2 separate regions of the Homo sapiens genome follow, and region 2 is linked to region 1. The links come from fine-mapping of genetic effects on gene expression. A gene starts in region 1. The other region holds a variant in brackets. All regions are shown on one strand. Distances are from middle to middle.

The links.
Region 2: its variant is fine-mapped to the expression of TSPAN7 in whole blood (TOPMed, PIP 0.96).

What each region holds. Positions count from the first base shown.
Region 1 is chrX:38,551,639-38,567,212 of GRCh38, reverse strand. It overlaps TSPAN7 (tetraspanin 7), which reads right to left and starts at 5,671. Exons shown (of 8, transcript NM_004615.4): 1 at 5,586-5,671. The coding sequence starts at 5,666. RefSeq lists an enhancer at 5,070-5,571.
Region 2 is chrX:38,645,603-38,661,176 of GRCh38, reverse strand. All of the region lies in intron 1 of TSPAN7 (tetraspanin 7), which reads right to left. Among named protein-coding and RNA genes, the nearest start is that of TSPAN7, 92 kb to the right of the region's middle. RefSeq lists a silencer at 3,382-3,431. The variant C/T (reference allele first, on the strand shown) is at 7,849.

The DNA.
Region 1 (15,574 bases):
AAGAACAGACTAATACAGTGCCCAAATTCAAACACTCTTTAAAATGTTAGGAGTTGCTCTTTAAGACTTTTCCCTCTATTTATATCCCAAGTACCTAAACTTTCTGGACAAAAAAAAAAATTGTTTTAAATTATTTTTCCAGAAAAGATTAGTGATGTTTCTCAAATGAAAAACAAATCGCTGATATTTTATCATAGAAGAATTTGATAGCACTATTGATAAGCTAATTACCTCCTTAGATAATCAAGAAATCAGGCCCAATATACACTTGAATTAAGCAAGGGGAACTTCTCTTCACACATGGTGGATTTAAATCTTAGCTTAGAACTCAGATGAGTATTTAAAATACATTAAAAATGTATAAATAAAACAAAAATTCACCTGGTAAGCAAAATATTTATTACATTTCTTTGCTTGATCTTGAAACAGTTACATTGGTTGTGAAGAAAGGATATTTTGTTATATATATATAGGGCAAGATCTTTTTTATTCATGCTTAAAAAATTCTAATTAAAAATTTAAATAACCAAAATGTCTGACAAACTAACTGATCACAAAAATATAATGATTGAACTATCATTAGGATAAGCAAGTCCTTGTGAAATCTGCTATTCCATCTTTTCACATATTTATTGGAGGAGCACATTTAAATCACTACAGGTAGACTAGAAATAACATTGTTTTAAAAAAACTTTCCCATTGAGGTGAGTTGAAATAAATAACTGAGCCCAAGAGTAGTCAATAAAATTTCATTTATTCATTAATTCATTCATTCATTAAGGAAATAAGTATTTAGTGAGTAAACCTACTATAAGCCTGACATTGTTTGCTAGTCTTTAAAGCACAGGATAACTTACTCCTAGGTGTGTTTTTCCCTCCTCTTCTATAGACCTGAAAATAAAACATACAAATCAGGAGAAATGAAGGATCAGTTTACACAGCATTCAGGTGATATTATTTAACCAAAAGACAAATCATCCCATCCATTCAAACACAATTATATAAAGAGGTACCTACCTTTTGTCTTCAAATAATTATATAGTACACAATAGAGAATGTTTTTCTTCTCACGTGATTGTGTTGCGCATGCTCTGCTACGGTGGTTCCAAACACCAATAAATATACAGTTTTGCATAACGCTCCATTTTTTCTTCACAGGACTTACTGCTATGTAAGTCCAGTAGTGCAGAGGTTGGTTACACTGTTGACATTTTGAGCAAGGCAATTCTTTGTTGTGAGGGGTTGTCTCATGTACTGTAGGATGTTTAGCAGCATCTGTGGCCTCTACCCACGAAAGGCCAGTATCATCCTCCCCTCCAGCTATGGCCAAAAATGTCTCCAGACATTGCCAAATATGGGAGGGGGGCAAAACTGCCCCCTTTTGAGAACCACCACTTTAGAGAAACACCTCAGAGAGAGAGTGTGATTATAGACAGGAGAGAAAGCCAGATAAAACAATAATCTCTCTTTCAAAAGTGTAGACTTCTGGTTTAACATATGCTCAAGTATGTCAACCTTTATGATGCTACTGCTCTACCACCATTTTAAGTTCAAATGCCTTCTAGTTCTAAATCTAAATTAAGGTAATGAAAGGGAAAAATTCCTATTAAAACAACTCACGAACACAAAGGAAATAATTCTGTCTAATCTTTCCTCCACCTTCCACTTTAAAGAACACCAAGGTCGGCTGGGTGTGGTGGCTCACGCCTGTAATCCCAGCACTTTGGGAGGCTGAGGCGGGCAGATCACGAGGTCAAGGGATCGAGACCATCCTGGCCCACATGGTGAAACCCCGTCTCTACTAAAAATACAAAAATTAGCCGGGCGTGGTGGCACACACCTGTAGTCCCAGCTACTCGGCAGGCTGAGGCAGGAGAATCACTTGAATCCAGGAGGCGGAGGTTGCAGTGAGCTGAGGTCACACCACTGCACTCCAGCCTGGGCAACACAGCGAGACTCTGCCTCGAACAAACAAACAAACAAACAAACAAGACCAGTAAGGTCATCTTTTTGTAAACTACCTAGCATAATCCCAGAAGTTTTGACAAATATTTGAGTACCTACTATGTGCCAGACATAGTTCTAAGTGCTGAAGAAAGATTTACCAACTGCATTTACTGAACTGAGAGATAATTCTTATAAACATTTAACAGGTAAATATTTGTGACCTTGGTTTTGGCAAAGGATTCTCAAATATGACACCAAAAGCATAAACAAAAAAAAAGAAAAAATAGGTAAGCTGGACTTCATAAAAATAAACTTTTGTACTTCAAAGGACACCATCTAAAGATAACCCACAAAATAGGAGAAAACACTTGTAAATCATGTATCTGATGAGGGACTTGTACTCAGAATATATAAAGGGCTCTTACTACTTAATATAAAAAAACCCCACATCTTAAGATGGTCAAAAGATATGAATAAATATTTCTTCAAGAAAGATACACAAATGACCAACAAGCACATAAAAAAGACACTCAGCATCATTACACATCAGGGAAATTCATACCAGAACCACAGTGAGATACCACCTTCACACCTACTAAGGCTATAATAAAAAAGTCAGGCAATAACAAATGTTGGCAAGGATGTGGAGAAATTGGAATCCTCATGGTCAAAGGGAAGGAGTGCTTTGCTTTGTGAAACAGGCTGGCAGTTCTTCAAACAATTAAACTTAGAATTACCATGTGACCTAGCAATTCAACTCCCAGGTACATACCCAATAGAAATGAAGACATGTTCACACAAAAATCTGTACATGAATGTTTATAGCACCATTATCCATGATAGCTAAATGACCCAATCAACTCAAATGTCCCCCAACAGACAAATGGATAAACAAAATGTGCTATAATCATTCAATGGAATATTATTCAACCATAAAAAGGAATGAAGTACTGATATACACTACAACATGGATGAACCTTGAAGTAATTATGCTGAGTGAAAAAAACAGTCACAAAAGGGCAACTATTGTATGATTACATTTATATGAAATGCCTGCAATATGGAAATCTCTAGAGACAGAAAGTAGTGGTTGCTTAGGGCTGGCAGGGGGTGGGCATGAGGGTGGGAAGTTGAAATTGGGGGGTAAACGGGATAACAGCTAAAGAAACAGGTTTCTTGTGAAATGATGCAATGTTCTAAAATTGACTGGGGTGATGGTTGCACATATCTATGAATATACTAAATATACAGAAATATATACCACTTATATACTAAAATATGTGCTACTTATACTAAAACTCACTGAATCGTATACTTTAAATAGGTGGCTTTTATGGCATATGAATCATGCCTCAATAAGGCTACTTAAAAATAACGTCTTGTTTAAAATATCCTCACACATCCGAAGAGATCTTATTCTTTTGGTTGTAAGTATGAAATGATTACAACAACCAAAGCCAGAACTGGCTTTGGTATTTAAACTATTGAAAATGTTCCAGGTTAACATTTAAGACTATGAAAATCTTGAAAGTAGAAAAAATTAAAATGAAGGCATCAAGGAACTTCCGGAGGACATAAAATGCAGTGATTGTTTAAGATGTATTGGGGGCATTAAGTAATTAGATTCATAGGGGTGGAATGTAAGCAAGGAGAGTTAAAGTGCTCATATGAAAAGCCTCAGCCTGGAAGACCCCCTTCTTTACCAGCTTGCAGTGATTCTGAAAGAACAATATTTCTTCATGTGCACTGTTAACCTTATTTTTAAGGAAGATAAAAATACCTCCCCCCTCCCAATATGATTCACTCCAGTAACAAATAGGAAGTCAAGTAAATGATAAAGGGCCAAACAAAAAGAGATTTAAGGAAACACATAAAAAGCTAAACCAGTTCCCAGGAATGGCTACTGGGAAGTTTCAGCAATCAGCATGTGTTACTGCTTTTTACAGGCAGAGCATAAGATGATATGATCTGTGCATAGCTCACAATTCCACTACTGAGACATTTCAACCTGTGTCGTTGTCAGTCCAAATAAAGTCCGTTTCTGTGTTTGCCTTGTGCAATATGCCAGTTAATCTATCCTAGCTCATTGCAGAGCTCCTGGTATGTGTGGTCTGGGGAGTCCATACCTTCCCTGACTTGAAGAACCACCAACGCCAGCGATAAGGAAATGTCCGGGTGCATTAGGAATATTTTTGATCCTCAATAAATCTCTGCTTCTTCCTTGACCATTGCAAACAGTCCGGTTTGCCATCTAGCTGATTCTCGGTACCTCATACAGCACTGTGCTCCAGTTTCAAAGCAAAAATAGGGCTAATATATGGTGGTGGGTGAGGGGCGGGGGTGAGGGGTGCAAGAAGAAAACAAGCAAAGGTTGAACTGGCTTTTCCTACAGAGCCTCAGATTTCAAAATGACTGCCGTAGAAGCTAAAATGACCCAGATTTGGGGGACAAGGGGGGAAGAGGGTCGATATTCATTCCCCTGCGGGGTAGCTGTAGCTTGATTATGGGCGTAAGGAACTAGGGAAGACGGGGTCACCGACATGAAAAGAGAAATAACAGGGAATGGTCTTTAAGTACCACGCACCTCTCTCAGTGAATCACTGCAGTGTCAGCCCTGCACTGATTCCATGATTTGCCAAACAGGATGAGGTAAGGCACAAGCCTGGAGCCCCCTCCTCCTCCTCCTCCTCCCCCTCCTCCTCCTCCCCCCTCCCCCGCGCAGAAAGGCGCATCCCTCCGCGAGGTGCACCACGCAGCCCCCCGCGGCCCTGGCTGAGGGGTGACGTCACCCTTCTGCATTGAGCTTCAAGGACCGGCGGCAGCACTGGATAGATGGGGAGTAGAGTTGGGGCGCTATCTCTATCACCAAGTGGAGGGGACCCTCTGCCAGGGCGCTGCGGATTGTGCTCATGCAGTGACAGAACCACCAGATAGGGAGTGTAAGGATGCAGGGAGGTGGGAAAGGAATCCAAAGACTCATCTCTTGGGTCACCAAGAAACCTCAAAGATGCCCCCGGCTTATGTAAGACCCTCTCCCTTTCGTGCGCCTCCACGCGGTGACAACGCCTGCTCCCCATCGTGCGCTTGGGAGACTTCGGTCGCCCTTGCCCAGCCAGGCAGGCACGGTGCTTCTGGTGCCTCCCTCCCGCAGCCCCGTGGGGTCAGGAATAACTGGGAATCTGAGATTAAACCCCACGCTCCCGTGTCCTCTCCTAGCCCGCCACAGGTTAGCTCCAAGAGGCGCCGCGAACCGGCTGGTAGGGGAAGGGAGAGAAAGGTGTACAGCGAGGAAAACAGACGAATAAACCCGCAACTTTCCCCAGGAGCTGACCCTATCCCGGGAGATTATAAAAGAAACTAATGCATTAACATTTTTTTTTTGGAAGGTCGACAACCTGCAGTCACCGACACTCCGCAGCCCCTTGCAGCCTGCGCGGAGCGAGGTCTAGGGTTCCAGCAGCCCCGACCCGCACCCTGCCATCCTGCAGCCCCGACCCAGCACCCCGCGCCTGTCTCCTTAAAGAGGGGTCCCAGATTTGATTTTTGGTTTGGGTTTTCCTCCCCACTTCTTTTCTCAGAGCATCATCATACGGACCGATGGACAGCGACTCGGCCACCGGCCCGGCGTGGGCACTTACCCAGAAGACGAAGGAGTAGATGATGAGGAGGGTTTTGAGACAGGTTATCACAGGTTTGGTCTCCATTCTCCTCGATGCCATACTACAGAGCTCCGGCGGCGGCGGCGGCGGCGGCAGGCGGCGGGCGGGCGCGCGGGAGGGGGAAGAGGCGGGGCGGGGCGGGGCGGCGCGGGGCGGGGGCGCGTGCCGCGAGAGGCCTCGTGAGCGCGCAGGCGAGGCCGTGCGCGTGCGTGAGCGCGCACCGCGCGGGGCTCCTACTGAAAAAGCCGGGCCGGGCAGTGACTGCGCATGCGGGAAACGCCGCCCGCGTTCGCAATACTGCGCAGGCTTAGACCCCCAGCGGAGGAGGGAGGCGAGGCCAGGCGAGGCCAGGCGAGGCGACACGGGGCGCGGCAGGACAGTGGGGAGGGAATGGGAGAATTTAGAGGCCGGGTCAGAGGTCACGGGAACCTCTCCCAGTCCGCCCTGGCATTTAGATTTCTGCTTTGTACACAGTTGGGCGTTACATTTGCAGGTATGCCTGCACCTGGCTATGGGAAGTTTATGGGTGCCCCGCTGCCCATCAGTCACGTTTCTGCATTTTGACACCCCCCAGGGCCTTCTCACATGGAAATGGCCCCGTAGTCATGTCCTTGGCAACCAGCAGGCCTTGTTTGTGCCAGGAACAGACAGGTGGCCAGAGATACAGCTGGAGGGATGGGCAGGAACGCCGGAGCTCAGACAGACCCCAAATCCTCGCCACCACAGGTATCTGCAGGCTCCTCCATTTTTCAGATTTGTCTTACATTTTGAAATAATAAAACGAAATGACAAGAAAGGTCTGTATGAGGCGTCATTCTTGCTGCGCATACAATGTTTAACAGAATACAGAAAAATGTTTAATATGCCTGAGAATCATTTGCAGCGCGCTAACAAGTACAGTCCACCTCCCTCCTGTAAAGGAAAGCTGCATTGAGGTCAAAAAATAATGTTCACAACCAATTTGGAGTTCCTCAAAAAGTTGAACAGAGTTTGCATATGATCTAGCAACTCCATTCCTGGGTATTTACCCAAGAGAAATGAAAATATATGCCCACACAAAACCATATACATGAATGTTTATAGCGGCATTATTCACAATAGCCAAAAATTGGAAACAACTCAAATATCCGTCAGCTGATGAGTGGATGACCAAAATTCGGTGCCTCCATACAACGGAAAATTATTCGGCCACAAAAAAGAATGAAGTACTACTGGTAAATGCTGCAACGTGGATGAACCTTGAAAATATGCTAAGCGAAAGACGCCAGACACAAAAGACCACATATTGAATGATTCATGTATAGGAAATATCCAAAATAGACAAATCCATAGAGACAAAAGAGATTAGTGGTTGCAGCGAGTGGGAGGCAGGAATGAGGTGACTTTTAATGGGTAAGCGGCTTCTTTTTAGAGTAATGAGAATGTTCTAGAATTACATAGTGATGATGGTTGCACAATACTGTGAATTACTAAAAACCACTGAGTTGTATACTTTAAGAGGATGACTTTTATGATATATTAATTATATCACAATAAAAACGTACATTCCACCCAGATATGGTTTGTAGAGGAACACACAGATTCAGTGGGAGATTTAGCTTGATTGCTAAGAGACTAGTCAAAAACAGCAACACTATCACAGGTTAACTCAATCGTGGATGATGATGTTAAGGATACATATTTGTGAAAGAGTGAAAAACAGAGTCAATAAGGCTTGGGAAAAGCCTGCTAAGGTCAGTTGTTACAGGAGTAATTATTACCTCTATCCAGTTATATGTGGTCTCAGGTCAATAAGGTAACTGTATGAACAGGACAAAAATATGAGGAAGAGGAGAACCTGTTTAAGGAAATTGTCAACTATAACAAAAAGGTATGTGGGCATACAAGGGTGGAATATAGGTGCAGGTGAAAGAAGGGACAGGTTGAGCAAGGTGTCTGTTATAAAGGGGTCTTGGCACACTGATTCTCGATGCTGGGTGCTCATTTGCATCACCTGGTGTTTTAAAACAATTATGAATGCCTGTGCCCAATCCCAGCTATTTGGAGTCATTTGGTGTGGGGTGAAAGCTCCGCGTTTTAGAAGCTCTTCAGGTGGTCTGAATATTAAGCAAGAGTTGAGGGGCATTGCCCCATACTGCAATGAACTTAAACCCAACTTCAGAGAGGAGCTTTCTCTTTCATTCTTACAGACTCCAGGCTGATTCCAACTGCTGCAGCAGCAGGGAAAGGATACTGAAGACTTCAAGCCCAGTGGGTATCCTTAGCATCAAAAGATCTTGGCCATGTATAATTATTTTGTAAAGAGGTCAGAAATCTCAATGTTCAGCCCAACAGTGACACTGCTAAGCATCATAGATAATTTGGTGAGTTAATATATGACATTCACAGAAGACACCCATCAGTTTAAGCTAACTCACCGTCTCACAGTTTGGAGCATTTTTGGAATATCTCTTAGGTCCAGATTCTTGAAAACTTGGACTGTTCTAGCAAAAATAAACCATTTAAATATAAAGATAAATATGAATATTCAGTAATGTAATTAGTAGATAAATTAACATAGCTTGTAGCTAGATCCTTGCTCTCCAATTGTGGCCCATGACATATATATAGGGTGACAAGCCATCCCAGTTTGCCCAGGACTGAGGGGTTTCCCTGCATTCAGGATTTTCATTGCTAAAACCAGGAAGGCCTTGCGCAAACCAGAACATATTAGTCACACTAACCCTGAGCTGGCAGCATTGACATCCACTGGAAGAGCTGTTTGAACATGCAGAACCTCAAGCCCCACTCCAAGCCCATGTTAACAAGATCTCCAGGGGAGTCAGATGCACAGTAATGTCTGTCATGTATTATGGATTGAATTGTGTCCTCCCAAAAGATATATTGAAGTCCAGGCTAGGTGCGGCTGAAGTCCTAACCCCAGTACCTCAGAATGTGATCTTATTTGGAAATAGGGTTGTTGCAAATATAATTAAGACAAGGTCATACTGGAGTAGTGGGGGCCCATAATCCAAGCACTTTTAAGGGCTCATATCCTTAAAAGAAGAGACACAGGGAGAGGGCCATAGGAAAACACAAAGACACACAGGGAGAAGGCCATTGTGACAACAGAAGTAGAGATCAGAGTGATGCAGCTACAAGCCAAAGACTGCCAAGGATTGATGGTCACCTCCAGAAGCTAGGAGGAGGCAAGGAAGGATTCTACCCAGAGTCTCAGAGAGAGGATGGCCCTGCTGACACTTTGATGTCAGACTCCTAGCCTCTAGAACTGTGAGATAATACATTTCTGTTTTTTTTAAAGCCACCCAGCTTGTGGTACTTTGTTACAGCAGCTGTAGGAAACTATCACGTGTCTAAGATTCACTGATCTATAATGCATCAATATATAATCACAGCTGCCATATCACCAAGCAACTCACAGTAGCACCATTTACAATAGCCAAAATATGAAAACAACCTAAATAAATGTCCAGTGACAAGTAGATTAATGAAATCTATTTTGTGGCATATCTACACTAGGGAATATTATTCAGCCATAAAAAGAGATGAAGTACTGATGCATGATACAACTTGGATGAACCTTGAAAACATTATGCTGAGCGAAAGCCAGATGCAGAAGGATGCATATGTATAATTCTATTTATATGAACTGTCCGTAATAGTCAAATCCATAGGCAGATTAGTGGTTGCCAAGGGCTAACCCTAATGGAGAGTCACCGTTTAATGGATATGGGGTTTATTCTTGTGGTGACGAATAAGTCCTGGAGCTAGATAGTGGTGATGGTTGTGCAACAGTGGGAATGTACTTAATGTTGAATTGTACACCTTAAAATAGGTAAAGTGGTAAATTGCATGTTATGTGTATTTTATAACACACAGAAATAATATGTAACCACAGCAAGTCCAAGTGTCCTGTGGCCTGAAGGAATGATGTAGGTTGCGGAGCTGAAGGAAGGTCAGCAAGGCTCAATAGCAGGAGGCAATGAAGGTATAGAGAAGGCTGGAGAGAGGCCAGCCCATCCAGGTCTTTTTAGGTGACATTAAGAATTTTAATCTTTTGCCTAAGAGTAAGAGAAGTGTTTGCTTTTTATTTGCTTCAAATTCAGCAAGTAGTTCAAGGAAAACTGGACTGCTACCAAAGCATCTACCTGGTCCCTCCTCCTACTGTTACCCCCTCTATCTCTTGTTCACACAACAACCAGAGTGATCTTGTTCAAACACAAACCATTTCATATCACTCTATGGCTTAAAATTATCTAGTGGCTTCTCATCGTTGCACTTGGAATCAAATTTTAACTCTTTGCCCTGACTTAGAAAGCATATATGAGGCCAGGCGTGGTGGCTCACGCCTGTAATCCCAGCATTTTGGGAGGCTGAGGCGGGTGGATTTCTTGAGCTCAGGAGTTCGAGATGAGCCTGGCCGACATGGCAAAACCCTGTCTCTACTAAAAATACAAAAATTAGCTGGGTGTGGGGGCATGTGCCTATAATCCTAGCTACTCAGGAGGCTGAGGCAGGAGAATTGCTTGAACCCAGGAGGCAGAGGTTGCAGTGAGCCAAGATCACACCATTGCACTCCAGCTTGGGCGACAGAGTGAGACTCTGTCTCAAAACAAACAAAACAACAACAACCACAAAAGCGTATATAAGCTGGCTCTGACTCTCTCTGCCACTACTCCCCCTTTGGATCTGTGCTTCAGCTGCTCTGGCCTTCTTTCTGTTCTTCAAACAAGTAGGCTTCATTCCACCTCAGAGCCTTCACATTGGCTGATCCTCTCTTTGGAATGCTTTGCCCCCTAAACTTTGAATGATTGGTCCCTTCCTTCCTGTCATTCAGATCTCGGTATAAATGTCACCTCCTCAGAGAGGCTATTTCAAACCAAAATAGCCACCCAGTCACTATACGTTCTAATTCTCTGCATAGCACTTATCTAACATTTTCTTATTTATGAAAATGTGCTTAGGTGTTTTTTTCTTTCCTGTGTCTCCTACTAAAATGTAAGTTCTACGGGGAAAGGTATTTCTGTCTGTTTTGTTCACTCTTATCTCCTTAGCACCTAGATACAGTAGAACTCAAAAACTTGTTGAACTAATGAATGGTGCACAGTAGTCCCTCAATAGATGATTGTTGACTAGTTGAATAGGGATATGATATTAGAAATGGGCCTTGAAGTATGAATACTATGATGGTGTTCTTTGAGGATTGGAGAAGGAGATCATTACAGGTTAGGAACAGTGTGAAAAAAGGCAGTTTGAACAAAAGCAGAAAGCTCGCTAAGAAAAGTGGCAAGGCACACTAGAACACTGCTATGGTTTCAATGCCCCCATCAAAATCATGCTGAAACGTATTCCCCAATGTAGCAGTATTGAGAAATGTGGCCTCTAAGAAGTGATTGGGTCATGAGGGCTCTGCAGTCATGAAGGGATTAATCCATTTATAGATTAATGAATTAATGGGTTAATGGATTAATGAGTTATAATGAGAGGGGAGCTGGTGGCTTTATAAGAAGAGGAAGAGAGACCTAAGCTAGCACATTAGCATGCTCAGCCCCCTCCCCATGTGATGTCCTGCACTGCCTCAGGACTCTGCAGAGTCCCCATCAGCAAGAAGGCCCTTATTAGATACAGCTCTGCAACCTTGGACTTCTCGGCCTCCATAACTGTAAGAAATAAATTCCTTTTCTTTATAAATTACTCAGTGTCAGGTATTCTATTATCAGCAAAATAAAACAAACTAATACAAGGACCTAGAGGAGGAAAAAATATGGAAATATAGGTTGGGCTGTGGTGGTAGAAGGCCTTGCTCAGGCCAAATTAGACTCACCAGTGTAGGCAGTAGGGAGCAGTGGAAGGTCTCTCAATAGGGGAGCTATGTGATCTGACCTGTGTTTTAGGAAAGTAACTTGGGAAGGAGTATGAAGGATGAGACGTTGCCAGAGAAAGAGACGAGAAACAGGAAAAGAGTTAGGAGGTAATTGCACTTGCCTAATTGGGAGTTGAGGGAGGGCTCCACCTAGGGATGTGGCAGTGGGGCTGGAGAGAAGGGGCTGGCCTGACCACTTCATCTCAACTCTGGCTATATGAAAATCCACTGGGGAGATTTTAGGTATGTGAATACCTGAGGTCTATCCCTCAGGGATTCTGACTGAATCAGTCTGTGGCAGGACCCCAACAATCAGTATTTTTTAAAAGCTTCCCAGATGTTCCAGCTTGGATTAAAACCTCTGGGACAGATAAACTGTTTGGAAATAGAATAGACAGCACTCAGGACTGAGTGGATCTGGGTGAGGAAAGAAAATATGACTGACTTTTTATTCTGAGTAAACTTGCAAGACAGCTTTTAAAACACACAACCCTGATAATATGTGGTATATCCAAACAGTGGACTAATATACAATTATTAGAAAGTATGTATATGAAGAGCATTTGTAGTCAAAAAGGAAAAGTTTTGTTATGAAGAAAAGGGCAAACAACAACAAAAAAGTATATGCAATATGACTTTAACTATGTAAAAACATATAGAAAAGAGTTTGGATGAAAATGTGTATAAAATTTTCACAGTGGTGCCTCTGGGAAGGAGGTTATAGGTGATTTTATTTTCTCTATTTTATATTTCCTCTATTTCTGAACATTTCTAAATGATCATATATTACATTTGTAATCAGAAAAGAATATTCTATAAAGGAAGCCTTCTACCCCAAAGATTAAAATATTAAAGTTTTAGGATTTAAGGGGGGGAACCCTGAACTATCTTGAAAACTTGCTGATATGAAATTTGAACATACCCCTGTTCATCTGTTTCTATATTTATGAATATATCTGAGTATTTCTAGGATCCCTACCTGAGCAGCCCAAATGACATTTTACCCTGGGATTCAGAAACATCTACAGGACTGAGACTAGACCTGTCAAGGGTATGTTTGCAAGTCACTCGACTGAAGATGGGAAAGAACTGAGCTTTGAAAACTTGGTTCAAGGAGCCTTGGTTAGCGTCAGAGGATTAGAACTGTTCTGAGGATAGCCCAATATTGGCATAAAATGAATGATGTGAGCCCTTACCTTTCCTCCATAGGGATTTACCCTGAGCCTTGGGGGTTAATGGGATGATTTTAACAAAGCCAGATTAGAAAAAAAGTTCATAAAGATATTGGGAGCACAAAGTTTTGTAGCCAATATAGCTTGCTTAACAAAAAATAGCAGGGACAAAAGGTACTGTTCTCATTTCAACAGAATGACAGTTGAATGGATCAGAACATGAGGTAGAAACATAAGAGACTCAGACAACTTCCCCAAAACAGAACAAATTAAAAAGCCAATGCCACTTAGTAACAGGACTACATTCGTGAGATTTTCAGTGGTAGCACTCAAGTGATAGCTAGGGAGACTGGGTTTGTAAATATAAGTGCCACCTCCCTTCACATTGGGTACTTCCTGAACATGGGACGAATTTGAGAGGGGTTAGAGTTCTTTAATTTGGTTTTGTTCCTTGACCCAGTAATTCCTTCTCTATGAATTGCCCTAGAAAGATAAATACATGTATAAAATATATCTGCAAGAATACTAATTGCAAAATTCATTATTGGAATAGTGAAAATGGAAAATATCTAAATATTCATCAATAATGTTTTGCCATATATTCGTTCATTCTACAAATTTTTTAAGTACCTACTATTTGCCAGACACTTTTCTTAGCACTGGGGATATAGCTGTGAGCCAAAAAAACAAGGCCCTTGTCCTAAGGGAGTTTGTACTCTACATGGGAAGACAAACGATAAAATAAATTTCAGTATATCCATGCTATAGAATTCAATGACGCAATTTTAAAATAGTAGATACATTTAACTGTATTAAAACTCAAGATCTACAAGGCAAAACACATTATACATAATTTTTAACTTCTAAGTTAGAGAAGAGAATTATAATATCCTACTTCAGTGATTATAATCACAAAATACATTAGAGTGTTTATGGGAAAAAATCAGGATAAACATACATGACCATCTCTGTATGGTATTAAGAAGAAATTCTACCTCTGCAGGCGCTCACTTGATTTTATACAAGAATTATTTTTATAATAAAAATTAAAACATTTCTAAAATGTTGTGTATAGAGGCTACACCCTAAAAACACATTTTGAAAAAGTATTTTCAGGACCTTATAGTTATTCTGTGACTACTGTTATATAGAGCAATGCAAGTAAAATTTTTGTGTATTTCAAGGTACAAAAATTATAACTTAAGAATAATCTGCAGATCTCAACCAAATGGGAATATAATGTGAAGAAAACAATTTTTGAGGTCAACTATATAATTGTTGCTCCTCATGCACAGAACTCCAGTGTTCTTCCCTTTATAATGAACACAAATCTGCTCTTGGATGTCTAGAACAAAGTTACTTAGAGGTGCTCTGTTTTATGTATTACCTTTTTCTCACTGAGCTGAAGGAGAACATATCCCTTCTTAAATACCTCTCCTAGAAATTAAATATCATTGTCCACTGGATTCAGAAACTGTCCCACTGATGGCTTTGCTTTCCACGCTTATGTTGTGTCTCCACACAGGAGATCAGTTTAAAACATTATATTGTTGTGCAGCAATTTTTCACTTGGCTCCCAGTTATACTTTCAATGTTCTCTCTGTATCACAGGGAGCTAGAAACCCACAAACTACATTTTTCAGATTCCTTTCCTAATTAGCCTCCTGTTAGGTTTGCTATTGGGAAGCACTGGTGGAGAGACTATGAGGTGAGGAGAAAAATAAGCTTCTTTTTTCTGTCTCTGGAAATCCCTCCAGCAGTAATAGCAGCAGCAACAGTGACTATAGCAGCCATTTCTTTCCAAAACATCTGTGGCAGTTTTAACAGCATTAGTAAAGCTATGGCATCCTGTATTCCTACTCAGTGGGAGCAGCACCCCCAAAAGCAGCAGTGTTAGCATCACTCACAGATCAGCATTAAGTGATGGGTTGTGGGTCCCAGCTCAGGAGTAGTAGAGCTTTCTGGTCTCTAGGTAAAACATACTGTAATGAATTGTAAAACTAGCCAAAATTCTTTCTCTCCCTTTCCATGACCTTTTTCAATGTGACTTTGCAGCTCTTCCCATAAAAAGTAAAATTTATTTCTTCTCTCTCCGAATCTAGGCTGGCTTTATTCCTTACTTTGAACAATAGAAAACAGTGAAAATGACGTTGTGATAGTGCTAAGCTTAGGCCTCAAGGGGACTCACCATCTTCTCCTCACTCTTTTGGAACCCTATGATTGCCATGGGAATAATCCCAGATTAACCTGCTAGAGAATGAGAAACCATGTGCATCAGAGTCTAGCCAGCCCTCTTGTCTCCACTGATAACTCAAATATGTAAGGGAGCCCAGCCACAATCTGCAAAGTCAACCCAAAACCAGCAGGAAGGAGTTCAGCTGAGACCAGAGAACTACCCAGATGAGCCCAGCCTAAATTGCTGACCACAGAATTGTTTTTAAAATAAAACCAGTAAGTTTAAGGTGGTTTGTCACACAGCAATAGCTAACTGATACACACCTTTGTCCTTTGTGTTTTTTCAGTACTTTTTGTACCTTATAGCAAATTACTTTTTTTTTTTTGTGAGCAACAAGGCTGTTTATTTCACCTGGGTGCAGGTGGGCTGAGTCCGAAAAGAGTCAGCAAAAGGAGATAGGGGTGGGGCCATTTTATAGGATTTGGGTGGGTAGTGGAAAATTACAGTCAAAGGGGGTTTTTCTCTTGCAGGCAGGGGCAGGGGTCACAAGGTGCTCAGTGGGGGAGCTTCTGAGCCAGGAGAAGGAATTTCACAAGGTAATGTCATCAGTTAAGGCAGGAGCAGGCCATTTTCACTTCTTTTGTGATTCTTCAGTTACTTCAGGCCATCTGGATGTATACGTGCAGGCCACAGGGGATATGATCGCTTACCTTGGGCTCAGATGCCTGACATTCCTGTCTTCTTACATTAATAAGAA
Region 2 (15,574 bases), 94 kb before region 1:
TCCCCTTGCTCTTGCCAGGTCAACCTGGCTAATACTGATAAGTCTCTCTGTGGATCTTGTAGCATCCTGATCTTCAGAGAGGTGCCAGAAATAGAGGCTTCCATCCTTCTCACCTGTCCAGAGGCATTTTACTTGAGCCCACGCTGTTTTGTGCGTGCAGACCACAGACCTTATGATGAAACTGCTGCAGCTGCTGTGCCAGGTCTGAGAGGGCAAAGTCCTTATTTCCTCTCACTAAATCCTTAATACAAGGTTCATAAGCCCCACCTTCTATGTGAATATATGCACATTATTCTAATGATGGCACAAGTTCATATTTACTATATCATTCAATTAAAGAAAAAAAAGACAACAGAAATTGAATCACAGAGGTACAAGCTATCAAAAAGAGACTGCTTACTAAATAGCCATATGGAATAGAAAGCACTGTATCTAAAAACCAACAAAAAGAAACACACAGGCGAGATCGTAGGCAGAAGTCTTAGCTAGATTGCATTTTAGTTGACCCACAATTCAATCATCCCAGAGGTTTACAGGTTAATTCCTTCATAGCAACTACACACAAAGGTATTGTGAAATATCCCCCAGAGGATTCTGTAACTCAGAAGAAAATGCGTGACACTGAAACTCCACACACATCATCAATAATTAAAATCCACGTTCCTCAGATGTTAGGTTTTAAGAGGAAAAGTACCTGACAAACTATTCTCTTAGCTGATTCTTATGTGAGTGTGTGTGCCAAGGGGACAAAGAGGAGGAGAAGTCTTTGCACAATGTTGGGACCTGATTAGGTAGAGGTGGAGAAAGTGACCAGAAAAGCAAAGAAACCAGCAGCTTGTATAATGTTATGGTCTTATTTTAAGAAGTAACAGTGTGCATCCATTATATTTATAACTTAAAATTTTATTACAAATTGTATGTATACTTAGTGTTTTTAAAATAGACTAAGAACCAGAATTTATTGGGATTCCTCACTGGGCTTGAGAACCCATTCCAGATGAGTGGCAGAAAGGGACTCAATATATTTAAAAGAACATTAGCTGGGGCCAGACGTGGTGACTCATGCCTGTAATCCTAGCACTTTGGAAGGCAGAGGCAGAGGTGGGCGGATCACTTGAGGCCAGGAGTTCGAGACCAGCCTGGCCAACATGGTGAAACCCCATCTCTACTAAAAATACAAAAATTAGCCGGCTGTGGTGGTGCGTGCCTGTAATCCCAGCTACTTGGGAGGCTGAGGCGGGAGAATCACTTGAACCCACAGGGCAGAGGTTGCAGTGAGCCAAGATCATGCCACTGTACTCCAGCCTGGGTGACAGAGCTTTACTCTGTCTCAAAAAAAAAAAAAAAAAAAAAGAAAAAGAAAAAGAAAAAAAGAATGTTAGCTGAATGTGGTGGCTCACGCCTGTAATCCCAGCTGCTCAGGAGACTGAGACAGGAGGATCACTTGAGCCCAGGAGTTCGAGGCCAGACTTGGCAGCATAGCAAGACCTCCATCTCAAAAAAAAAAAAAAATTAGAATTAAAAATGTTAGAGCTCTTGGCTGGGGTTTAGAAGACCAGGGCTTCAGTTGTAGTTTTGTCATTAATGAGCTGTGTGACTTTGGGCAGATCACCTGATATTTCTGGGCCTCAGCTCACTCTTCAATAAAATCAGGAAGTAGAGAAACCTGATTGCCAGTGCTTCCCTCCCAGCTCTAACATTCTGATACAACAAATCAGAATCTCAAACTTGACACACTCAGTCACGCTGAAATATATTTATAGCTGTGCCTTTAAGCAAACAAAAGAGAGTTTCTAAGATTCTCCCTGTATCTGATAAACCACCAGCAGCAGGGGTAGGAAAGTTGGCTCATTTCTGGACCTGAAGCCCACTGTTCTGTCAGCTTTCCCAGGTGGCGAGAGGCTCCTGGGTAAGAAAGGGTAGGAAGAATGCCCAGCAGGACATGCGTTTGTAGTTTTACACAGACACGCAAAAATTTATAAGCTCACTAGCATAACAAAAGCTTTACTTTTTATAAGAAGATCCCACTGTTATCAAGACATGTGCTTTGAACTCTCTCTAGGCAAGTATTTTGACCAATTCAACCTTTTTACTCCATTTTTGTCTCGTGTACATGTATACATGTGTACGTCTGTGGGTGTGTGTGTGTGTGTGTGTGTGTGTGTGTGTGTGTGTATGGAAGATAATACATGTTATATGGCTGACAGGTTGGTGGTATCATTAAAAGGAGACAGGGAAGTTAAGAAGCGGGAGAGGAGTGAGATAATCTTAAGTGCTGACTTGTTAAAATTGAATCTGAGAACCAATAAGAAATCCAGAGACCGTCTGGTCCAGGCTCTGTTTTCTATTGGGTTTGGGGTGACCAAAGGTCACAGAGGCAACATGTTCAGAAGGCAGTTGTGAATGTGGGGCTTGAATTTAGGAGTAAGTCAGAGCTGCAGGTGAGGGCTGAGGCCAGAAGTGACAGCTAAGCGGGAACAACGAATCTTGGGAAACAGAAGCAGAAGATGGTGGGAAGTTCAAGGACTAAGGCTTGAGGAAGACTGTCACTAGAACATGAGAGGACAATGCTGGAAGACAGGGGACAGCAAAGAGACGCAAAACAGAGTGGACAAGTCTATAAAGGTGGCTGCCAATATGAGAAGTAGGACATGGAAGAAAGAGACATTTTCTCCTTTAAAGATTTATTGGAAACAAGGCCAAGCACAGTGGCTTGTGCCTATAATCCCAGCACTTTGGGAGGCCAAGGCGGGAGGATCACTTGAGGCCAGGAGTTCAAGACCAGCCTGGGCAACATAGTGAGACCCCATCTCTAAAAAAAAAAAAAAATTAGCCAGGTGTGTCAGCACATGCCTGTAGTCCCAGCTACTTGGGAGGCTGAGGTGGGAGGATCACCTGAGCCCAGGAGGTCGAGGCTGCAGTGAGCTAAGATTGTACCACCACACTCCAGCCTGGGTGACAGAGCAAGATCTTATTTTTTTAAAAAAAGACTTATGGGAAACAAAACACCAGCACAATTCATTGATCCTGCATACACTAATGACCAGACAGGGTACTCTTTATTTTTGTACCCAGTACAGCCCACTGAGATTACATTTTGTATTTTAATATTATTACATCCTAGATCCAATTCATAGACTTCAAGTTTCAGGAGCTAGGTCATGAAGCTAGAGTGATTTGTCACAAACTCTAGCTTCTATTTGGATTTTATCAGGGATCAGATAGCCAGAGTCTAAAATGCAGATTGTCTAACAAGGTATAACAAATCACAGATGCTTTTGAAAATATGAAAATGGCTTTGAATAGCACTATGAAAAGTCAGAAATTCTAGCTTTGACTGTGGGTCTATTACAGTCTCTTCATATGTGTAGTGAAACAACTAATCATTTCATAGGAAATGGCTCCAGGCATGCTGTAAGTCCAGCAAACAATACTTCCTTCTCTAAGTTGCAACCACTAGCTTACACCAGTCATGTTGCATATCTGTGTCTTAGTTCATCATCTACAAAGTGGCAGGACTAGCCCCAGGGCCCTTCCAGTGCTAGAGTTACTTGTTTCTTTGAATTGCCCAGTGGTCCTCAGAGGGGCAAATATCAAATTCAACTGTTAGCTCAGATGCCAAAGACTGGTCAACAGCATTCACCAAGGGGCTGCACCTGCTGGGCTCTGTACTCATCCTGGGGAGTTTAGCTGGAGGGTGGCTCAAGGAGGTGGCTGGCTAGAGACTGAATACTCTCTAATGTCCTGTGGGCCCATGAAGTGGTAAAAATGGACCCATATGGTGACAGTATTTTCAGAATTAAAAACAGAATCTGAACACGGTAAAGATCTTTGAAATTGGCCTGTCACAGAAAATCAGGGCTATACAGCTGCTAAAATAATAATAAATGCCACCTTGTTAAGAGAGCCTTTTACTACTTGAATAACTAAACTCCTTCAAATGAGGCCCACACAGCTCTACCTTATACTTAATTCCATTATTCAACAAATAGAGTCACAGAAAATTCCTGAACATGTTATTAGGTACTCTGTATATCACACTGGGAAAAGAGAAAAAAATGGTCAGCCCTATTGAATTGGTTTCTCATTTCTTTTATATTACCCTAAAAGCTTACAGACTTAGGTTTCTTCTCCCTTAAAAACTAAATTCCCCAAAAAGGCCCAGAAGCAAAAAGAAAAGAAAGAATTTAACTGCACACATATCCGTACATTGAGAAATGTTCTATTACATCAGAGAAGAATGTTAAGGGTAGCTTATTCTGAGCCTCTTGGCATTATTTTTTCTTTATAAGCATTGTTGAGTTCTCCTAGCAAATGTTTAAAACAGGACTTAGGTTTTTGATCTATACTAATAGTGAAGGTCTTATTTCAACTTTGAGAGTCCAAGAGCATGTGAAAGGAAGAAGCAAGCAAACCAGAGGTTAAGACTATATGAATATAGCTCATACCTCTGGTTTCATGATGACCCAGATATATAAATAGACATCATATAGGTAAATGCCTATTAGGAATTGGGGCCAGCAAAGCCACTTACCAGGAGATTTATGTACTTAGAAATCTGCACCAGCTGTAGTGGCTAAAGTGACAGAAGCTTAATGTTTGGGGGATTCCCTGTATGCCCCACCTCCTTTATCTTTTGGCACAGTTGAATACACACTAAGGCCGTGTGAGTGCCAGGAGCACTAACAGTCTTAGCGCCATTAGCAGATAGCCAACCACCAGTGAAAGAAGAGTTACGGCAAGAAACCCCTTCCCTTGCTTCCATTCCTCAGGTAACCAGCACTGTGAAAAGACGGATCAAATTCTACACTAATAAGATACTTTTTAAAAAGATCATGTCAGAATAAGCTTATAAACAAGAGCCACATATTAATGTGTGTTGACAGAATGTTTGTACTGACTACACATTTGTTCTGCCCTGTATTAATTGTATTAATACATCAAGATTTTAAGAGTCATGTGGGGAAGGAATAAATCCTTTCCTCCTTTATATCCACCAAAGCCTCAGCCATACCTCGTACCTGATTTTCCAAGACAACATGCTGTTCAAATATTCTGTCCTAATATCCATCAAACAGAATCAGCTCAATAAATACAGAATGAATCTTAGTGACGAGCTCTTCTTCAAATTCAGCTCCCTTTTATTGGCTGTGTCCTCGTGAATTTTGGATGGGAATGAATCTGGAAAAACGAATCGTAACAATTTTTCCATAAATGCCAATCTGACAGTGGCACACTTCTTTCTCATAATTATGTTGAACCTATTTGGCTTTCCTGGAGTTCCATTATTTTCAAAAGGGAGAATCTTCTTTGCATAATTTATATATAGGATTATCATCTTCAAAATACTGAAACCAAAACCATAGTCCTAATAAATACTTTATACACAGGAAGAAGCTAGAACTCAGATGGCAAAAAAGTCACTGAATTCCCACGCTTTATGTGGCTATGCATTGATGGGGTGTGATGAGGTGGGTTGGTCTGAAGAACTCATGCCTCCTTTCAGGTGAAACTGGAGCCAATAAGACATAATGTTAGAAGAGGACCTACTATTAAATGTGGAAAAACCTGGAAAAGAAAGCATGTATGCAGTGTTCAAGAGCAAGATTCTCATATAAATAGTAAGGTAGGATTCTCCTTTCAATGATCCTAACTTTCTCCTGAGGTGATTTAAGGAAAAAAAAAACTTAAAAACTGGTATTAGTGACTTAATTAGCTTTCCTTTCAACACTCATATGTCCACACTGCATATATATATATGGTACTGCTACTAAATGCAATGTACAGGGAAAATTCAGATGTCTAATATTGACAGAGTACTATGAAAAAAATAACTTTAAGGTAATAGTAATATGTTTTTGGCCCCCCTAAAAATCAGACATTTTGGAAAAGCACAAAGAGGACACTTCACCACTTCTACCACTACCACCCTAGGCCAAGCCTCCATCTCCCCTTGCATCCACCCTTGCCCCCATTCTCTATTCAACACAGCAGTTGAGATGATCCTGCTGAAACCTAAGTCCAATAATACGTGACTTTGCTCAAAATCCTCCCACAACATTTCATCTCTCAGAGAGAAAGTCAATGTTCTTATCCTGGCCTGCAAGGTCCTACTTGACCTGCAGCCCCCACTGGTTCACTCTGCTGCAGCCTCACAGGCCTCTGTGTTCACCCTCAAAACTCTTGGCATGCTCTTGCCTCAGAGATTTCACACTTGCTCTTCCTTCTGCCTGGAATTCCAAGATCTCTCATTTCAGGTCTCTGCTCCTCCATGAGCCCTTCCCTGATGACCGTATTTGAAACCAGAATTCCACTCCCCCACGGGGCTCCTGCTTTATCTTTCGCCACTGCACCTATCACCTTTGTATACTATTTACCTTACTCACTTTGTCTGTCTACCAAAATGAATGTTAAGTTCTGTGAGGGCAGGATTTTTGTCCTATTCATCCTATTCATGGGTGTATCCCCAGGGCCAATACAAATGCCGGCTCACAGGAGGGGCTTAGTTAAATATTTGCTAACTGACCAAATACAAGACAGCAGGCAGGTAAGTAAGTATGAGCTTTGGAGGCATAAAGTCTATTCTCACTAGCACTGCATCAAGGAGGCTAAATGGTGGGCCTGACTACTGTAAGGCCCTGGCAGTTGCACTCAGATAAAAACCTGTGCTTTAGCCAATTGCTTCTAATCCAGCACATTGCTTCATAAATGTCTGCTTTTGGCCACAAGGGGGACTAAATGAGAAAGCATGGGAATAGTTCCTTCTAATCCATCACCACTAATAGAAAAGTAATTTGAAGCTCTAATATCCTATAACTCTATGAGGTCTGTAGCTGATGGTTAGGAGCCAAGATAATGAACAGCATTTAAGTAAGATTTCCCTGTCTCTTAAAAAATGTACAACTGAGGTGCTTACTATCTGTGTGCCCTGTACTATGCTAAGTGCTTTAATGCTTTATCTGGCTCAATCTTCTTAATAACCCTATGAAACGTGCCCAAGGTCATCGCCACTAAATGGCAGAACAGTTACTCAAAGCCCTGACCCTCCACTACTGCTTTCCTTTAATGTCCTCTTTAGCCTGTCTGTAGAAGGTTCTTTCTCCTCAACCCTTTACTCCTAACTCTTCCATAAGAGGAGTTCATAAGCCAGCATCGTCCATCCTGGCACTGATTTTTCCTTGAATCAACCCTGAGAATTTGGCTGCCATAATTAAAAATAAATAAGATCTATAGGCATGGCCAATAATTCATTTATTTTAAAAGGCTATCCATTAGCATTAGGAGATATACCTAATGTAAATGACGAGTTAATGGGTGCAGCACACCAACATGGCACATGTATACATATGTAACAAACCTGCACGTTGTGCACATGTACCCTAGAACTTAAAGTATAATAAAAAAAATAATAAAAGGCTATGCATTATTCCCCTCCTTCAAGCAGGTAAATCTATAGAAATGAAAGCATGTTCCACTCCAAGCTATAGTTTGATACTTTAAAAGCCAGTATGGGAAATAAATATCTTCATGTGTATGTCGACGTGAACCAGAAATGTTCAATATCATTAGCACCAGGAACAAACCTATGGGAGGACTGATCTGAAGAATCAATAAAGCTTGACAAACACATGGAAAACTGTAGTGTCTTGAGTATTGGTTTTCCACCAAGCACATTCTAGAACGAAAGCTTAAGAAACTTAAGTACTCTGGTTTTGGCCCTGAGAAGAGAAACAAGAGGCCACAGGTGCAACATATATGAGAAGAACCCACTCTGAAACTGTGGAATTGCCTTTCAAAGTAGCTCTAACCAAAAGTGATGGGCTGAGTCACGAGATAAGGCAACCGCAT[C/T]GTATCTGCTCACCCCACAGCCTGGGAGGGGGATTTGATTGGCTGTTCATGAACGAAGGGCACAGTCTGGAAACAGAGTTAACCATGTATGTGTGTGATAAACGACATTTATTGAGCAGTACCGTGCTCCTTATACGCTTCATCACATTTATTCTTAATCTCTGTTTTGCAGATGAAAACCTGAGGCTTTCGGTTGTTGACTTTCAGCAACGTGCTCAAAGTCACAAAGCAAATAAGTGGTATAGCCCGGAGTCCAATCAATTTCTGTCCAACTCGAAGGCAGTTTTCTTGGCCATTATTATATTCTGCCTCTTGCGGCAGTGTAAGTAACAGCAGTCAAGGCCAAGGGCTGAGTTCCTCTGTCCAATATTACCCAGTCACTGACCCTCTCGTCTAGGTAGGTGAACGCTAAAGAGAAGCCTGGTTTTCTTTATACTGCCTAAGGGCTTCCTACGAGTGAGCTGTGAGGAAACCAGTACCCTGAACCAATTTCCACAGCGAGGTTTCTTGGGCAGTTTCTAATTGTCAATAGCCAGGAAACATGGGTAAACGCAGAGTGGGAAGAAACGGACTCTACAGACTGACCCTGGGGGCACTGGCCTTTTCCCTTCTCCTTTCCTGGGACGGGCCTCCCGTGCCCCTTATTGGGCATACTCCATTTTATGAACTGGGCTGTGTTCTGGATTATTTATACATTACTTGTTTGAAACTCAAAATGTATTTTCTTTGAGAAACCATGTTATACCTGGTGGCTTGTTTCTAGGCCAGTCCTCAAAAATCTATATTTAAGCCAGTATTAGGGAAAGTTATAGGGAAACAGATTTTTGGCTCATTACAAGGAAGAACTTTCTAATAATAGGCACTGCCCAAAATGGAGTGGGTTGCCTTGGGAGGTGTTACAACAGAAGGTAAACAGCTTTCTGGGCAGCCCCATAGAGACTCTGGATGCAACCATGGGACAGAAGTCCTATGACTGGGAACCCAGCAGGAAGGCCTAAGTTACACTGTTTCTCAAAACCTGTTCTCATTCTGACTATTGTCCCAGAAGACTTGTGCTAGCTAATTGGCTAGCCTTTGCTAGCCAATTATCTCCCTGGATTTTCATACATGGATGAATAGGAGCATTAACAGCACAGGAATTGGGGAAACCATTTTCCCAGATCTGGAGTTTCATTTCCTTTGATCTTCAAAGGAAGCGATAGGTCATACAATTTTGACACATTAAGAGCAAGAGAAAAGCCTGTTCAGTGTAATGGGGCTGCAATGAAAATGAGCTGTGTTCTTTAAAAGAGGATATGGCACTGGAAGGAGTATTTGCCTTATTATTTTAATTCTTCTATTTTCCATAAGCAAATACACTCTACATCACTTAGAGTCAGAAATCCTGGATGACTTTAAGAATCAGTGAAGCTGGTTAAAGATAAATTTACAAAAACTATAGTTGCAACCTTCATACTTTTCACATATAGACAAGGATTCTGTCAAAAACCTGACATATATTGGAACTAAAAAGAGGAAGTATCTAATAAGGTGCTATTAGTAATGGTATATTGCACCAGAGATCTATTCCTATAGAAAATTACATAGCTCGTTACATGGCTATGGGGGCAAATACAACTACACTTTGGACCCTGAGGCAACACAACCATCAAGCTTGCTCCTGCAGGATACATGCAGGGCTCTACCTGCTCAGCCCTCCTGCCCCATCGCTGCTCAGCCAGGTCCTACCTGCCTTTCAAAGCACAACGAAGATGTCCTTTCACCAAGAGGCCTTTCCTGACACTCAAAGACAATAATCATTTCATCCTCTTCTAAATGTGCTTAAGATTTTCCACATACCTCTTATGACTGACTTCTTTTTGGGGGGATGGAGTCTCGCTCTGTCGCCCAGGCTGGAGTGCAGTGGTGTGATCTCAGCTCACTGCAAGCTTCGGCTCCCGGGTTCATGCCATTCTCCTGCCTCAGCCTCCCGAGTAGCTGGGATTATAGGCGCCCGCCACCACGCCCGGCTAATTTTTTGTATTTTTAGTAGAGACGGAGTTTCACCATGTTGGCCAGGCCGGTCTCGATCTCCTGACCTCATGATCCACCCGCCTCGGCCTCCCAAAGTGCTGGGATTACAGGCGTGAGCCACCGCATCCGGCCATTACTGACATTTTTACCTTGTATTCTAAGACTTTGGGTACACCTTATCTGCATCCCCAGTCATCTGCTCCCTGAAAAAGAGATGAGTCCCTCATGGGATTGTTATTAACTATATATATATATATATATATATGTAATCACATTTCTGATAATGAAATATGACTAGAAAGAGTGCTTTGTTTGCAAATAGCTCTCATCAAGGACACATTAACAGGGCATTTTTCTTTGGTTTCTGAGGTTGCTAAGAGGGCATGAGATGGGAGAGGTTGGGCAGGGATCCTTACATGTAAAAACGGCTAGAGAGATGCAATAGTCAAGTCTGGAAACAGCATCAGAAGCTGTTGCATTCCTTCCATGTTGTGCTTAGAAATAAATATGACTGTTGTGGTCTTAGACAAATGAGAAGTCCAGAAAAGTATAACCTGGTAATCAGGTCCCTCAACTCAAAGACCAGTGATATAAGCCTCTTCCTTCCCCAAGAGTCACCAAAACAACTTATTTTAGAAAGCTAAGGCTTCTCAGCAAGAAGCAGAAATCCTTCCCCTTTGACAGTGTCAGCTGAAAGTGACTGGCCCAGTGACCACTCTTTAAAGCTGCATTGAAGGGCCAGAATGGTTGAGTCCTACCTGTGCTCCACACAAGTTATGGCCAAGGACATGCTTTCCTGGGCACAGGAAAGCCCCTGGCTCTTACCACATGTCTTCACTCACAGCCAAGGGCTGTCTGAAGCCCTGGCACACACTGTGAGTGACTGTGACCAAGGACTGCACTGGCTTGCTGGCAGGATGGACCAGCAGGCACCATGGCTATATTCTGACCTCTTACATCAATTGATATTATTTTTAGTAAACCATTCTCTCAACTCATTTTGCCTCGCATTATTCAAACGTAAAGTATCTTAACCACAAATCATGTGGCTACTAGCAAGAGATGATACAAGCCACCTTGAGCAAGGGGCTTCCTGAGGGCCATGGGCATCCTGTAGGGAAGCACAAGCCGCTGGCACTTCCTGGGACAGGAAGCCAAAGGAGCTACCCTTCCCTATAGTCAGGGCTCTGGGATGTACTTCTCTTGCACATCAGCTGCATTCTTCTCTATCTATGCACACTGGCTCTCTCTGTCCAAAAGCCTCCCATTAGAGCATTCCCAATTCAAACATCCAACAGAGACTGATGAGCAGCCTTGAACACAAATTTCAAATTCATGGAAGAGAGAATCTGAGGGGCCTGTCTCAGGTCAGGTGACCTCCCGGAAGCCATCAGCTGTGATGAGGGCAAGGCCATGTCCCAATGCCCCATCTTATCAGCAAGTGCTAGGAGAACAGATGGTCAGAAAAGGCTGTGAGCCGGGCAACCCACAGATTAACATGCCTGTCACTGCGAGACTTGGCTATCCCTTTCCTCCTGAAATAAAGGATAGGGACTGTGAAGCAGCCTATGTGTTCAGCCTGACTTTAAACACTGCATCCTGTACAGCATCAGAAAACTGTGGTGATAGACCTATTAACAGCACAACCCTTTGCCCTGAACGGACCCTGGGGAAACCCAACTCGGGTAGCCACAAGCAGCCTGTACCAGCGAGAGAACAGAATCCCTGGTTGGCTAACCAGGGGGCCTACAAGGAGGGTGCAATACTGGCAATTCTCAGGAGGCCAGGCCCTTCCCTCAGCTCCTCCCAAAAGTGTGGCTTAGGTCCTTGACCACATAAGGCTACATGCCAAGTGACTTCAAATAAATGAAGACACTATCTTGAAGGAATTGGCTTGTTGCCAAACTCACCATACTCTATGGACCATTCAAAGTAGGTCTCTCTTAAATGATCCAATGGCATTGGCAGGATCCTTTGGATATCCTTTCACCATCACTGAGCCTCTCACCACACCTCTTGAACCACCACCCCCCTTCTGACTTGTGAGCTCAGCAAGTGGCTAACATTACTGCAGCAGGGACTCTTCCCATGCAAGAATGAGGGCTTGGCGGTCATCAGAAATGTGTCAGTGTGGACAATACAGCATACGAAGAGGTGTCACACTGTGTCACAATCTGTTAACATACTCATTTGGGGTGAAGAAAGGGCCTAAGGACCAAGCATATATAAAATAAGTGCCTTCCAAAATGCTAGAGGGTATAATAAAAATAAATGTTTAAAAAGTAAATAATATAGTAAATAAAAAAGCAAGCACATTTGGGATTACACCAGGGACCCTCCTTACCTAACAGGAATAACATAATATTGGCATCTGTTACTTCTTTTTTTTTTTTTTTTTGAGACAGAGTTTTGCTCTTGCCCAGGCTGGAGTACAATGGTGTGATCTCAGCTTACTGCAACCTCCACCTCCCGGGCTCAAGTGAGTCTCCTGCCTCATCCTCCAGAGTAGCTGGGATTACAGGCTTATGCCACCATGCCTGGCTAAAGTTAAAATGCAGATGCCTGGCTGGGTGTGGTGACTCCCGCCTGTAATCCCAGCACTTTGGGAGGTTGAGGTGGGAGGACTGTTTAAGGCCAGGAGTTTGAGACCAGCCTGGACAACACAGCGAGACCCTGTCACGATGACAAAAATTTAAAAAATTAGCCAGGCATGGTGGCCCACACCTGTAGTCCTAGCTACTCCAAGGGTGAGGCAGGAGAATCACTTGAGCCCAGGAGTTTGAGGCTACAGTGAGCCATAATTGTGCCATGGCACTCCAGCCTGGGCAACAGAGCAAGATCCCAACTATAAGTAATAAATAAAATGTAAATGGCTCAACTAAGCTACAGCAATAGAAATCCTAAAAGTGACTGTCCATGAAGGGGTCAGGAATAATAGGAGGGGACACATGTAGTGATGCAAATAATCTTTATTTTGATTGGAGTGTATTGTGAGGGAGAACCTCAAAACACAAGCAGAAAAAGAATAAGTGAAAAAATGTTATTATATAATCATTAGAGACAGTAGGAGGAAGAAAAATGGCTCTTGGATTTTATGCAACAAGTGAAATTAAAATATCCTCTAACATTTGTAAGCTGCTTTACAGTTTATAAAGTATATTCATTCATAAAATTCCATTTAGTATTCATAATAATCCCATGAGGCTCACATAATCAGCATACCCATTTCAAGATAAGAATGCAGGCTCAGAGAAAGCTAAGTAGTGCCCCATGTCCCACAGTCTGTTAGGGACCAAGACAAAGCAAAAACCCAATGTCCTTAATCATAGGCCAAGTCATTTTGACTACACCATGCCAGGAACTTTTATAAGTTAGTTTTCTTGGTTACTTGGTATAGTTAATTGTATTTTGTGTATCTGACTTGTGCTCAACCTGGTTCTCTACACTGTAAGCTCCCCTGAACAATGAATTTATTAACATTATCCAAACGTATAGCAACCAGAGTTGACAAGCTGCCGGAACCACAGGACTCAATCTGTGACTAACATTCAGCATCTTGGACTCTTCCATAATCAAACCATGAGAATAAGGACTAAACATCAAAGGGCTAAAAGAAAGCCTGTTCAGTCAATGCTGCCACAATTATGTTGCTTTGCAGATTACAGTTTCAATTTGTCTTGAAACTTCACAAATGTCCATCTTGTCCTCTTAATAGCATGCAAACAATTGAGGTTAGGGACCAAATCATTGTGTTTTACATTTCCAGGAGCACCCAATATGGTGTCCTAAATTTAGTACACACTCAATAAATGCTTATTTTATAGTATGTTTGGTACCTTCTAGAAAGTAATAGTGTTAAAAATAGAATTCTGTGACACAAAATTTTGTATCACAGACAAGGCTGGGCACGGTGGCTTATGCCTGTAATCCCAGGACTTTGGGAGGCCGAGGCAGGCGGATGACCTGAGGTCAGGAGTTCGAGACCAGCCTGGCCAACATGGTAAAGCCCCATCTCTACCAAAAATATTTCAGTAAAACTCAGGACAAATGTACCATGAGGGTTTATGTATTAACTGCATGTGTTCTATCCCTTTAATCCAAGTGGGGGAATAATTTTACAGAGCTTAACTGAAGGATTTTAACTAGCAAAACCAACCAGTAGAAGCTTCTGTGTTAAAAGAGTAGTAAGCATAATTTTTTTAAAGTATGCATTTCTGGGTGAATGTAATTAGAAGAAAATCTATAGGCAGCACAGCCCTCTCCAAACTTTGATGCCTATTTTCTCCCCTAGTGTACCCCTCATTCTCACTGAAAGTCAGATGGCTTTCAGGCTGAGTTATCTTAAAAGATACACATTAGCACTGTTCTTCCTAAGTGGAACACTGGGAAATTTAAGCTCTGACCTCAGTGAGGGACCGTGAACTGAGACAATCTGTTTTCCCGTGGCCACTGGTCTCTGGCAATATGAAGACACAAATGTCCCAGAAGTACAGATAAAAGCAATGAAGTACATAATTGCACCTGTGCTTGCACATTCTCGTTCTTAAAGGCAGAATTTTAAAATAAATATTATCCCCAAATTCTATCACCTTAATGCAATTTTTGAAATTTGGGGACATTCCACTCCACATGAATGCATATAATTACAGCATGTAAATTACACATCATCATTCACTTGAACAAGGAAGTAATTAGAGCTTCTCAACTTTTGGTAAGCATAAAATACCTGATGCCCTCCTTTAAGATTATCTGGCATTTCACAAGTTCTTCCAAGCAATGGTAATTGCGAACGCACTTTCTCCAACTACATACACCTCCCTCCTTTGGTTTCTGACATGCCCCTGCTAAGAACCCCTGTTTTACGTGCATTCACTGCTCCTAATATTTCTACTCTATTCCACTGCCACTTCAGGGAGAGTAAAAACAAACACTACCTTCACAAAATCCCACAGCTACACACATTAATATTTGTAGGAGCCAACCCTGCAACAAAATTTACTTACCAAAGCCATAGCCACATCCTGTCTGCCACAAAATCCTGCAGCCTTTTCTTTCTTTTATGAACATGTAATACAAAAGATATTATAGAAAAGCTCTATGGTATTGGATCTATACTTTTTGCCAGATTACTTTTTCCAGAGTTTTAATGTATTTACAGGTTTTTTTTTTATAGAAAGTACACCAACTATTACTAGTTTAAAAACCAGAGTTTTAAGTCTGTTTGACCAATAAGTCTGGAATTTATCAGGTCAGTAATTCACTGCCAGGTAATTGACAAGAAGTACCTTAACTTAAACATAAATTGTGCAGGCACCCAAAAAACAACCCTATACTTTCAGGTTCTTCATATGTAAACTGTTGTGCTGATGAAAGGTTTAAACAGATAATTTCTCTAATATACTAACCAGGCATTCAGGTCTGGTAAACAGGAAATGTCAAACAAAAGCAGTAATTTTCCCATTGCTATTTTTATTATTATTTATGTTATTATTGAGTGCTTCCAAGTATTTCCACAGCCATGCACGCTACCAAGAATCTGTACCGTCCAGAATCCTTTTATGTTCTGAATTGCCTCCTGAGAGAATCTTTCATTCTGTTAAGCTTCTAGACAGTTATAAATCCAGAGGTTTGCTCTGGCTTTTGGGAAAAATAAGCGTTGTTTTGCAGCTAGAAAATAGTCATCTCCTTACTTTCTGCACAGCCCCTCCTATGC